2 linked regions of the Homo sapiens genome follow. The protein of the gene in region 1 interacts with the protein of each later gene in a pairwise test. Each region holds a gene or a part of one and is shown on either strand. Other genes may lie near its edges.

What was found.
Region 2: the proteins of CLVS1 (region 1) and AHSP interact in binary tests that used the Homo sapiens proteins (3 or more experiments, as listed by UniProt).

Annotation. Positions count from the first base shown.
Region 1 is NC_000008.11:61,283,848-61,291,053, forward strand, and holds the start of CLVS1 (clavesin-1), read left to right. Parts: upstream 1-4,122; 5' UTR 4,123-4,291; intron 4,292-7,206.
Region 2 is NC_000016.10:31,523,511-31,529,394, forward strand, and holds AHSP (alpha-hemoglobin-stabilizing protein), read left to right. Parts: upstream 1-4,389; 5' UTR 4,390-4,452; intron 4,453-4,466; exon of another isoform or gene 4,467-4,504; intron 4,505-4,625; 5' UTR 4,626-4,629; coding exon 4,630-4,704; intron 4,705-4,947; coding exon 4,948-5,181; 3' UTR 5,182-5,293; downstream 5,294-5,884. UniProt on the Homo sapiens protein: Acts as a chaperone to prevent the harmful aggregation of alpha-hemoglobin during normal erythroid cell development. Specifically protects free alpha-hemoglobin from precipitation.

The sequences.
Region 1 (7,206 bases):
TGGTTAGGAAGCTGATATCAAAGGTGGGAAACAGCAATTTGTGTTGTGCAGTCATAAAACATTTGGCAAAATGGTCACCTGCAATAACTTAGAAGTAAGTTATTCCAATATATTCCAATATATGGAATCGGCCTAAGTGTAAGTGTTTTTAAAAGTAGTATATATACACAATGGAATACTATTTACCTGTAACAAAGAATGAAATCCTGACATTTGTGGCAACATAGATAAACCTGAAGGACATTATGTTAAGTGACATAAGTCAGATAGAGAAAGAAAAATATCTCATGGTCTCAGTCATCTGTGGAATCTAAAGTGTTGTTGTCATAGAAGTAGAAAGTAGAATAGTGGTTACCACAGGATGGAGAGGGCAGGACAGAGGGAGGGTAATGAGATACTGGCCACAGATACAAAATTACTGTTAGAGAGGATGAATAAGTTCTGGTGTTCCACTGCTATAGCAGAATGACTAGGGTTAACAGTAATGTACTGTATATTTCAAAATAGCTAGAAAAGAGGTTATTGAATGTTCTCATCACAAAGGAAAAAGTAAATGTTTAAGGTGATAAATGTACTAATTACCCTAATTTTGTCATTACACAATGAATATACGTATCAAAACATCATATTGTACCCCATAAATGTATACAACTATTATGTGTCAATCATACAAAAAGATTGTGTACTTAATTCACATTTTTAGTGAGAAGTGGGTAAAGACCAAAGTGTCGGTAGTGTGTCTTGGTTATTACTTGCTGCTTTTGCAAGATAATAAACAAAGAAAAGCCTGGTTATTAAAGTGCAAATAAAGAAGAACAAATATTTCCATAATTCCAAGGTCTTGCCATGTTGGAAAAGCCAATACATTTTGCTCCCAAAAGAAAGAGGTAAAATTAAGTAAGCATTTGAGGCAAAGTCTGTTAAAACTAAATATTTATGCCAAGAATAAGATTAAGGGTGTGACCTTCATGTCTACTTAAAATCTCTCAGTGGTTTAGAATGTCTCAAAGAAGAGATCAGGTAAATGATCTGGCCTTACTACTTACTACTCCAGAGAGACTCACATACATTATGAAAGATATAGAAGTGAAAAAGCAAATAAATATAGCAGATCTAAGCTCTGTGCCTCTAAAGACCTATGGTGTGGCTACTGGAATAGGGAATTGATTAAGTCAGATGGAAGTTGCGCCTCTAAGGTCTTCAGACAGTTATACTTCCAAGGAAACTATGAGATTGGACTAAAAAAAAAGTCTGTGGAGCCTTACAGAATTAAAATAAGCCTTGGACTTCCAATCATCTATGGGAAGAAAGTAGGCCCAAAACTAGCACATCCCCCAGGAATGTGTTTCAAAATATTGTAAAGAATGCCTTATCCTGTTTGTAAATACTTATTTGCAACTGCCTTACTTGGGAAATTGGCTAGATGTGAACTTAATTTGATTTTACACTTTTTAATGTCATTGCAAAGGAAACTGGGCTACTTTGATAAGCATATAGGTCCTTTGCACAGAACAGATTAGAATATAATCATTCAGGAAGTTCCTTTCCTTCACTTACCCTGATTGACATTGTGCTGATGTTTTGCACACTCTGCTTGACCTCCATTTCAGCTCCGCACATGGAAGCTGCCTACATATTTGTTTACCAGGATTCCTCAATGAACCCCTTTGTGCATAAACAGTCAATGACAAGGGTGAAGGCCCGGCCTGCTTATAAGCATCTTTTATGCTGCCTGACCTCGCTCCTGGCACGCCCAACTCAGTACTCACTTCTGTACTCCTTTAAAGGGCACTGTTAATGTTGGGTTTGCTGTGATGTAGGTTTGAGTACAGGGGGAGTGCCTTGTGTGTGTTGACCAGTGACAGGTAAAGACTCTATCCACGTGAGGGTGCACTGAAGTTGAGAGTCCAGGAATAATGGGCTTAATACCCAGAGAAATACCTATATTTATGAAGGAGATGTCAGGATGATTTTACAAGGGTGAAACAGCACATTGTTGAACATGTGACTAGCATGGATGTTTAAGAGCCAAGAAAATGTGTGAGGAATAAGGTCAAATTGTAGAAGGAAGAATATTCTAGTTAACTGGATCATATTTTGTTTTCCCTGTAGTTTTTTTTTTTTTTTTTAGCACATAAGACGCTGTCATTAATATTTCTATGATCTAATGTGCAGGCCATTTTTTTTTTAAGTTTGAGTTTGAATTAGTCAGGATAGGCTAGGTAATGCTAGAAGAACAAATTAACTCTGCAGCCCCAGTGACTTCCCATAACTGTGGCTTCTTCTTTGTTCACAGTGGGAATGGAAATTTGAAATGAAGAGGGGGCTAAGTGAGACTGTGTTCTACTTAGTCACCTGGGGACTAAGTAAGGAATTGTCATAGCCCATGGCCAGAGTAAGCTCATGGCCCTGCCCATATGTAATAGGGCTGGAAAGTGTGGGCAAGCCTCAGGATATTAGATGATCAGCCAATATTTCTGCAATAATCTGCTCCAGTGGTTATCAAAAATATCTTAGCCCCTATGGAGCCATAGAGCATAGAACTTACCACCCATATATCACACCCAACCCATCTCCAAAAATTCCTTCGCTTGCTGCAACCATTTCTCAATTTTGAATCTCTAAGTTTTAGATGGTTGTCTTATTGCTACATCATTTCCAGATGTGGATTCTCTCGTTCTGGGAATGTATAAGCTATGTTGTTCCAGGCATACTTGTAAGTGCTTGGGAAGCAGTAGTGAACAAACACACAAATTATCTGCCACATGGTACTTACATTCCATCAGAGAGAATGACTAAACAAATAAGTAAATATATAATACTATGTTAGAGTTGGAAGAATTCTGATGACTTTAAAGTCTTTGAAATACATGATAGAAAGATTACTTTAAAATATTTAATAAGTTTTCTAACCTTTTAGTAAATGTGAAAACTTTAAGCAAATACAAGTAAGAAAATCAAGTTATCTTGGCAAAAAGAAAATTTACCCATAGTGATCTAACTAATGGGAATGCTGTATTTGATATCTTGCTTTCCTTCACTTAACACTTTGCAAGTATTTCTTTTTTGGCCTTAAACAGTTTTCAAAAATATGTTTTAATAGCTATAAACATTACAGGCTATATAAAAATTAATGCTTTTTTATTTTTTGACAATTTCTATGATCGTAAATGAAATTTATACACATAAATCTTTGCATATCTGAATATATCCCTAGCATAAGGTACGAGAAGTGAAATTACTGGATCTAAATGCCATGTATATTTATGACACTGGATATACATTGTGAAATAGATTTTTAAAAATGTTATGCTTTCTCACTATTATTCCAACAATATAAGACATGCATATTTAAAACTTCAGCCCAAACTGCCATATTAAACTGCATATTTTCATTTACTGGCGAGGTTGATATTAAAAAAATGTGTTTATTATGCATCCCCATTTCTTCTATAAATTCTTTGTCATTTAACATTCCTCCTTTTTTTCTAAAAGGCTGTTAGTGTTTCTCTTATATGTGATACTTTGTGTATGAAACATCTACTTGCTGCAATTTTTTAAAGTGGTAATTTGTATTTACTTTTTTTATATTCTGACATTCAGGAGTGTTTTTATGCACTCAAACTTACCGATCTTTTTCTTTTTTATGTCTTCTATTCCTCTTGTGCTTAGAAAACCTTTCCTATCCTGAGATCGGTAAAATATTTCTGTTCTTCTAGTTATATTTTTAAATTTTATGTTTTTGATAAAAACATCTATGTGTAATTTATTTTGGTGAAAAGACTTTGATTTGAGTCTTTTCAAATAGTTCATTTTCTTAATACCATTTGTTAGTAAAATAATTCCCATAGGTTTGTGATACTTTCTTACCTGTCAAATTTACACACACACACACAGACACACACATCTGCTTTTGCGCTTTCATTAATCCGTTTGAAATATTCTATTTTTAATGTTGTGTGGGGAGTGATGACGCTGGTACTTTTTGTCCCAGATGTTAACAAAATTACAAATAATTATTGGTACGTCTCAACGGAACCAGGGAGGGTTGTGGTACGGAGGCATTTAGGACCCAGGGGAAAGCTAGGCTCCGTATAGAAGGACAGAGAATCGGGCGCACACGCCTCCTACCAAAATCACAGCCCCTTGTGGAGCCCGAGCTCTCATTCACAGCTTTCTAGAGAAATCTGAGCCCGAACCTGCCAGAATAGGGGATCTCACCCACCCAGTTCAGCAGCGAGGACACCTGCAGAAATACATTCCCAAAGCAAGGCTGGGCGGCCGTGTGAAGGTATTTGTTACCTTTTTTCTCCCCTCTGTATTTGCCGAGCCTCCCCGCCTTTCCCCCGCTCTTTCGATGCCATGGCTGCGGCGTTTCAGCACTTCGGTATGTGGACAGCTCCCATCTGCAATCCCTCTGCACTCCATCCCTCCCGCACCGCACCCCGCTCCCCGCCGCCTCCGCGGTCCATCCTCCTCCCGGCGCCCGCTCAGCCTGCGCCCCCTTACACATCAGCACCCCCATCTCCACCATCACCGTCATCATAGCCACCATCACCAGCGCGGTAACTATAGTCACACAACTGTGTCTTGCCACTTAGACAAAGCCCGAGGTCCGCAGGGCAGAGGGAAAGAGCTCAAGTTGACAGGCATAGGAAGGAAAGTTCAGGTGAACAAACCCCTGAAAACAAAGAGAGACGCCTGTTTGCGAGAAAGGGAAAGTGAAGGCAGGAGGGAGAGACCCCAGGCACGGGGACAGATGGGGCACTTGCCAGACACCAGCAGTTAGCCAGCTGCCTTTCAGCAGATTAGGGTCTGTTTAGTTGAGGAAATTAACATGGCCTAGGGCATAATGTGATTCCAGAAAAACAGAAATGTAAGCTCAACCTGTGTTTCTGGTTTTCCAATGGAGAATCACCAGGAAGCAGGGTGGGGGTGACCGATGACTCATATTCACCCACACGTCCGTTTCCTTTCCTAAGTGTTTAATGCAGAAACTCCAGAATTAAGTTTTTTCTTCTTTTTTCACTAAAATGTTTTGTAAAATAGGGACCCTAAAGGTTAACTCTGGCAAGAATAAAAATAAAAATGATGGTAATGATTGTAACTTAAGAAAGGGGGCTCTCATTCGAATGAACTATTTGTTCCAATGTTTCTTCCTGTCTACTTATTTCATTTCTATTTTCCAATCTTAAACCTCTCTTTGAAGCAAAGAAGATAGATCCCTTGCCCAAATGGCAAAAGTAGTAATGATATTCAGACCAGATGGCCTTGCTTTGTTTGTCACCAGTCAAGGACTGGCTCAGATTTGGAAGGCGAGATTTTTGTGTGCTTTCTCAGTAATCAGGTGATAACACCATTTTCCTATAATAGTAAAGGGTAATAGAATGCAAAAATTGAAAAGGCATTTTATGTAACTCCATTCTGCCAGGCTCTGCTTTTAGAGTGCTATCATTTTCTATCTCAGCTGAAGGGAAGTTGGAACACCTTTCAAATGTCTGATTAATTTGAACCTGAAAGTCTAAGCCCAAGTCATAGTCCCTATTTGATTTAGCCAGGATTATCTGTTTTATAAGAGCTAACAAGCACCAGAAAATAAGTGCCTGAGCCTGTCATCAATAAAAATGTCTTGCTGGGTGTTCATTTAATTGATTTTTACTGAACAGTAAAGCATTGGGATTTTTTGACAAGTTATTTTCTTATGAAATTAACATCTTAATTAAAAACGAGATTATTTAAATGGGAATAATAGGTCACACATGATAAGAAAGTTTAAACCAGAGCACAGAAAAGCTTGATTTTAAAATTGTCGTTGTGTATTTATTCTGCCTCTTAAAGACATTGCAGCACGTTTCATCTAAACCAGCTTGCTCACCATTAGAGGCATTGTCGAAAATAAAGACAGTCACAAATATGTATCTTGCGGAAGAAGTTCTGAGGAAAATTCATACTTAAGTCTCTTTGAGAATGAGAAATAGTCGCATTGTGTCAAAAGTTAATTACTGCCACTAATTATATAGACATAATTCCACCTGCCTCTAAAATTCATTCACTTTTGGATCCCAAGCAAGAAAACTAGTAAAATATGTGGTGAAATGGATTTTATAGAAGAAAATTTGGTCATCCACATAATGTCCTTGGCTTGGTAATATCCACAGTAACCAAGACCTCTTAAAAGTCCCTGAGAAAGGAGATTCTTAAAACTCCCTTTTCTGTCTGTAAAGAATGGTTCAGCTCAGAAAATTTTTAAGAGTGTACATATTGCCAATTCTAGCTGCTTCACACCAGAAACGCAGTCCAGGAATCCAGTGCCTCTAGAGCTTCTGTCTTCCTCTGCTTAATACAATCTCCTGGGGCTGGGGAAATTTTAAAACATGCTGCTTCAGTGAGATTTACAGGCATCTGTCTGTAAGCAATGACTTTTCTTGACTGAAATGTTATGCTGAGCTTATTAATTTTTATAGAATGATGTATCCTGGCTTCCTTACTTAAATCTTTTCTATTGAGAGCTATTTTGCCTTTAAAAAATATTTTCAGTAACAGAAATTACTCATTTTTATAATGGATTTAAAGGTGAAGAGAAAATGTTTTCCAGCCGAGTGTCATCATATATTTTTGTAGACATGCTCATAGAAGAGTGCATCATTTTAGAATCATGGAGTAGACAGCTGGAAGGTCTTTCATTTCCCAAAAGGCAAAATCTTGAACTTTTCAGAATTGGTAGTGTCTGCTCACTTCTGAAGGTTTTACAAAGAGAGGCACTTTATTATCCCTAAGAAGTCTATTCACAACTTGACGTACTCCCTGATAGCAGAGACTTCCATCCTTAGTAAATGGATCCAGGCTGACTTTGATCTTCTCTACTCTTCCTGTTACACAGTGACTTAGACAGAGGAGGCAGCACAGCAGAATGAGTATACAAAATATGAAGCTTGACTATATGCAATCAGTCCAGAAATATGTCCTCAACATTGCCAAGAGAGACCTTCTTTTCAACCTTCTCCCAAATATTGCTTGTTTTGATTATTGTTAATTTTATCCAGATATCACTGGAATAAAGTTGTTTCAAAAGAAGGTCCACAGTGTGAATTTTGACAAGTCTGCAACCTCTAACTGATGTATGTCTCTTTATTGAAACTTATGCTTAATTGCCAATCTAAGTTTTTCTTAGTTTAAGGGAAGTTTATATTCTTTTGCTTGATTCTT
Region 2 (5,884 bases), on another chromosome or scaffold:
GAGCCATTTAAGGGATGTTTCTTTCCAAAGAAAATGTTCATGTCATGAATTTTATTCCACTAACATAATCTGAACATACGGGTCTACCTTTAAATAATGGGCCAGATGACCCCTGTTTATCTAGGAGTGCAGTCTTCTGTCAGGGCAGATGTCCTTTCTACTGTGGAGAATTGCATTTTGAGACCCTATGAGTCTGAGCATATCTGTAAGGGGCTGCTGCTGTCTATTATTAGGGCGGCCTCTTTAGCTTTGGCTCTACACCATGTGGCTTGAAGATTTTCCTTGAATTTGACCTGAGCCCCTGACCCCACCCACATTGCTGGGGAGGAGGGGCCCGTTCTGGACTCTGGCACCTGTAACTCCTGACCCCCGGTCTTGCTTGCAGCGGAAAAGGAGAGGCAGAAGAGGGAGGTGCACACTCAGCCACTCTGGGCATCCTTCCTGGGTGGACTGGGCCCCCTGCAGGGCCTGCTCTCACCTACCCAGGAGCACAGCTGATCTCGGCTGGGTCTCCCTCAGCACACTCAGGATGTGTGGGGCAGGTGTCTGCGAGTCCCCGGGGGACTCAGGTTCCTGGCCAGTCTCACTGCCCCCTGCCCCAGCATTGAGACCCTCATGTGGCTGCAGATGTGGCTGATAGTGCCAATCAAGGGAGCCTCTGTCTTCCCAAACTTAAATTTCCCCTCCCATAACCTATAACTTCAGCCCCCTCCATTTTCTGAGCTAAGCTCCAATTAGTGAAAACAAAGTCAAGTGGGAGTCAGGGGACAGGAAAGTGGCCCAGGGGTGGGGCAGAAGAGGGGGAAGGGACAAGTCTCTCTCGAATGGATCCAGAGTGAGCTCCTCCCTCTTGCGAGTAGCCATGCTGCCAAGACGCTGACCTTCAGATGCGCAAGGCTCATGTCTCCTCCCCAGCCCTGGGACCCTCTGGAGGCTGCAGGTCCTGATTGCTGTGCCAGTCACAGCAGGAACAGGCCCCAAAAACGTCACATCTCCAGGAAATAAGACCAAGGTTCCACCTAACCAGTTCAGCTCTCACCTCCCTCCCAAAATGTTCACAGGGGAAACCATGGGCCAAACTATGTAACATGAAATCTACAACCTTTTTGCCCTGACTCCAACCTGGTACTGCCACGAGCAAGTCAGGGTTTTGCGTTGACTGAGTGGGATTTGGGTCATCAATTCCAATCAGATTTCTGGAGAAGGCTCTTCTTTCCCTGATGATTGAGGTCTTCATTGCAGTCCTCTCGGTGGAAGGAGAGGCCTTCCTGGAAGTCCAAACAGTTCTCTTTTCCTCCCTCTGGCTAATTTCTTGTTCAGCTGAAGCAGAGCCTGCCTCGATGAGGGAGTTCCTATTAGGTTTCTTAATTTTTAAGAGACATCACCAGAAGTGAATTCCTCTGTAAATCAGCAGTGCTTTATTTTTCTGTTGCAGAATGAGTTTGTGATCCTGGTTTTCTACAATTCTTTAGCAAATGTGTTTTTGTAATCTCACGTTCAACCCTTCCTTTATTGATGTATCTAGCATGCTGAAAGGGAATCAGTTTCCCCTGCTATTCTCAAGACACTGGTTGAGGGAGGAGACTTCAATTCTTCACTACATCTCACTAATTTTACTCTGCAATTCATTATAGTCCAGGTAGTTAGATTAGTTCCAACTGTGCCAGGAAATTTTGAGGAATGAACAAAATTAGATTTTTTTTTCCTTTTTTTTTTAAAAGATGGGGTCTCACTATGTTGCCCAGGCTGGTCTTGAACCCTTGGGCTCAGACGATCCTGCCGTCTCTGCCTCTTACAGGCATGAGCCACTGTGCGTGGCTTCAATGTTAGATGTGTTCTTGGCAGCATGGTCTTCTAAGCCATCTGAGGCAGCACCATCTCTTTTGAGTTTCCTGGCATGTACCAGAGACCTTCCTGAAACTTTTCCTTAATGAGCTTTGGAAGGGCATTGGGATCTTGATCTTTCCCATCTGGTAATGAATTATTTTTAAAGAAATATTTAAGAAAAATTATTTAGAAGTGAAAGGATGTAGGAGACAGTCGGCCTGGTGTGATGTGAGAAAGACTGGACCTGGTGGTCATTGCTGGCTTTCAAGCTGGAAAGGGACCAGGAGTGAAAGAATGTGGGTTCTTCTATAGACTAGAAGAGGAAAGAAAAAGAACTCTTTTTCAGAGATTCCAAGGGGAACACAGCCTAGAGGACAACTTAATTTTAGCCTAGTGAGTCTCATTTTAGATTTCTGACCTCTAAGTCTGTAAGATAATAAATTTATTTATTTATTTATTTATTTAGAGACAAGGTCTCACTCTGTCACCCAGGCTGGAGTGCAGTGGCGTGATCTTCGCTCACTGCGGCCTCTTCCTCCTGGGTTCAAGCGATTCTCCTGCCTCAGCCTCCCAAGTAGCTGGGATTACAGGTGCATGCCACCATGTCTGGCTAATTTTTGTATTTTTAGTAGAGAGGGGGTTTCGCCATGTTAGCCAGGATGGTCTCGAACTCCTGACCTCAAGTGATCTGCCTGCCTTGACCTCCCAAAGTGCTGGGATCACAGATGGGAGCCACCGTGCCTGGCCGGTAACACATACTTTCCACCCTATATAAATGAAAACATGTTCACATGGAAACCTGTACACAAATGTTTATAGCAACTCTATTCACACTTGCCCCAAAGTACAAACAATCCAGATGTCCTTCCGTGGCTGAATGAACAAACTACAGTGCATCCATACAATGCAATGTGTCCACTGACACTTGTGACAACTTGGATGGAGCTCAAGAACATCATGCTGACCAAAAAAAGTCAGTCTCAAAGGTTACATACTGTATGATTCCATTTATATGACATCCTGAAAAAGGCTTAACTGTAGTGATGAACAGATAAGTGGTTGCCAGAAGTTATGGGTGAGGGTAGGGGTGGCTACAAAAGGGTAACGTGAAGGAGTGGTTTTTGGGTGACAGAAACATTCTGTATCTTAACTGCGTTTGTAGTTACACAAATCTGTTATAAAATTAATAAACTAGGCCAGATGCGGTAGCTCACACCTGTAATCCCAGCACTTTGGGAGGCCAAGGTGGGTCGATCACTTGAGGTCAGGAGTTCGAGACTAGCCTGGCCAACATGGTGAAACCCCATCTCTACTAAAATACAAAAATTAGCTAGGCGTGGTGATGCACGCCTGTAATCCCAGCTACTTGGGAGGCTGAGGCAGGAGAATCGCCTGAACCTGGGAGGTAAAGTTTGCAGTGAGCTGAGATCGCATCACTGCACTCCAGCCTGGGCCACAGAGGGAGACTCCCTCTCAAAAAAAAAAAATTTAATATACTGTACACCAAAAGGAAGTCAGTTTTGCTGTATATTGATTAAAAAATGCTACAACCAAAAAGGCAAATCAACAAAGCTTTATGAGTGTATAGGCACCTATGAATGTTGGGTTTTGAATGGAAAAAAAAAGTGACAGGAAATATACAATGTTTAATGCTGGTTACTTTGGAGGGGGCAAAAATGATTCAGTTTTTCAGTGTACGTTTTTGTATTGTTTTAATTATTTCAATTAGTATATAGTGATTTTGAAATTTGAGAAACATCTACTGAAAATGGAAAATATCTGGAAAAATATTTAAAAAGAGGAAAAAGAGTATTTCTGCTTTATTGGGTACCTGTTGACAGGGTAGTAAACAAGACAAATCCATCTCCATTCTTTTTTTTCTTTTGAGATGGAGTCTCGCCCTGTCACCCAGGCTGGAGTGCTGTGGTGTGATCTTGGCTCACTGCAACCTCTGCCTCCTGGGTTCAAGCGATTTTCGTGCCTCAGCCTCCCAAGTAGCTGAGACTACAGGTGCCCGCCACCACGCCCGGCTATTTATCTCCATTCTTATGGAGCACAGCGTGGTGGAGTTCAGTCCACACGCTTACAGGTGGCTTATCTGCAAAATGTGTCTAAAAAGAAATTTTATAGGATAAATATTTTGTACATGTTTGAAACAGTGCTTGGCACAAATGAATAAATGTAATGCAAGCTGCTATTAATACATCATCTCCGAATTGGGAGAATCATTGCGATCACATCGTTGTGATTACACAAAAGCCTCTGTCATGTAATAGGGCTCAGTAAACGTCAATTTCCATAGCATTTCGAGCCTGGATACTGAAATATGGGGCAAAAAGCAGGAACATGCCCCTGGTTTGGCTCTTGCCTTCTTGCATTTCCTGGGTTTCCTCATTTATCTTTTTTTTTTTTTTTTTTGGCCTTGTTATCTTTCTACCTTCAGGGAAGCCTCTCCCTTCTTCTCCTCCCTAGAATGACCTATCACCCTCCTTCAGGACCTAGATGCAGGGCGTTTCTATCTTAGGCTGACACTTGACTCCTTGCCTACATCTATAGCTTGGCACAGAGAGATTCACGCACCCTCAAGAGTGTGGGTGAGACATATACAGCCTGTTAGACCTGAAGGTGAGCCCAACCTGGGAAAATCGTGACCTCAGAGCAGGGCAGGATGTGAAAGGTTTTGGAAAGGAGATAGCCCTGCAGGGCAGGAGGGATTTTTAAGGGGAGGAAGTGGGTTGGGGGAAATACCCAGTGAGGAGGGAAACAGATATGTAAATTCTACCCTTTTCTCTACCCAGGCAGATGGCTCTTCTTAAGGCCAATAAGGATCTCATTTCCGCAGGATTGAAGGAGTTCAGCGTTCTGCTGAATCAGCAGGTGAGTCCAAGCTTTCCATTTCAAAGGACTGGCCTGGAGACTGGGGGGTGCCGGGGAAGTGGAGGAAGAGGATAATTGGAGCTGGTGAAGTAATGGTGGAGTTGATGGAAACAACGAGAGACACGGGATACAATGCAGAGGAAAGAGAATGTGAGAGTTGGTGCTGTGGCACTATTCTAGTATTCCCGAATCCCATTGCTGACCACATTCTCCCTTGCCAACTGCCTCTCCGCAACCCCCCAGGTCTTCAATGATCCTCTCGTCTCTGAAGAAGACATGGTGACTGTGGTGGAGGACTGGATGAACTTCTACATCAACTATTACAGGCAGCAGGTGACAGGGGAGCCCCAAGAGCGAGACAAGGCTCTGCAGGAGCTTCGGCAAGAGCTGAACACTCTGGCCAACCCTTTCCTGGCCAAGTACAGGGACTTCCTGAAGTCTCATGAGCTCCCGAGTCACCCACCGCCCTCCTCCTAGCTCAGGGACCCAGCCCCTCCTCTCTGAGAAACTCTGACCTTCATGTCCTTAGGCTGTGCTCCTGCCACTCTACCCTGACACCTCAATAAAGACCAGTGCTGGTTTTGTTGGACTTCCTGGCTTCTCTTTCATGGTCTGTCCTGACATGTGGAGGCACTCGGTCCCTTTCCTTCCGCCCTCCTTCTTAGATATGCTCTTGGAAGCTTAATTCCTTACAGCAGAGGTTAGCAGCCTTGAGTGACCACCGGGCAGCGATTCTAAACTAAAACAGGCTGAACGAGGGCCAGGAAGGCGGGACTAGAGAGAGTGCAGAGCTGCAGGGGAGGGGGTGGCAGAAACAAGAAAGGGGGATAGAAGTCCTCCAGACATTGTCCTGTGACCTGCTTGTCGAGGAGGAAACTGTTGGAAGTCTCCCAGTCTTGTTCATCCTGCGCCAGGTCCACCGCCTCGACTTTTCAATCCCCTGTCCTTAGCCCCAGCTCAAACTACATTCTAGGATCTTCGGACTCTGACTACCGCAAAATACCTCCCCGGAGCCCCAGGCATCGCAGGAATTTAGAGTTGGAAGGGATCCTGGGAACCCTTTAGCGCGCCCCTTATATTTCAGGAGGGGAAGCCACTTCCCTTTGGCTCCAACATCCCTGGGCGCAGATGCCAGGATTGGGAAGCAGAGGAATCCGCCTTCCCCCCACCCCAAGCTTCT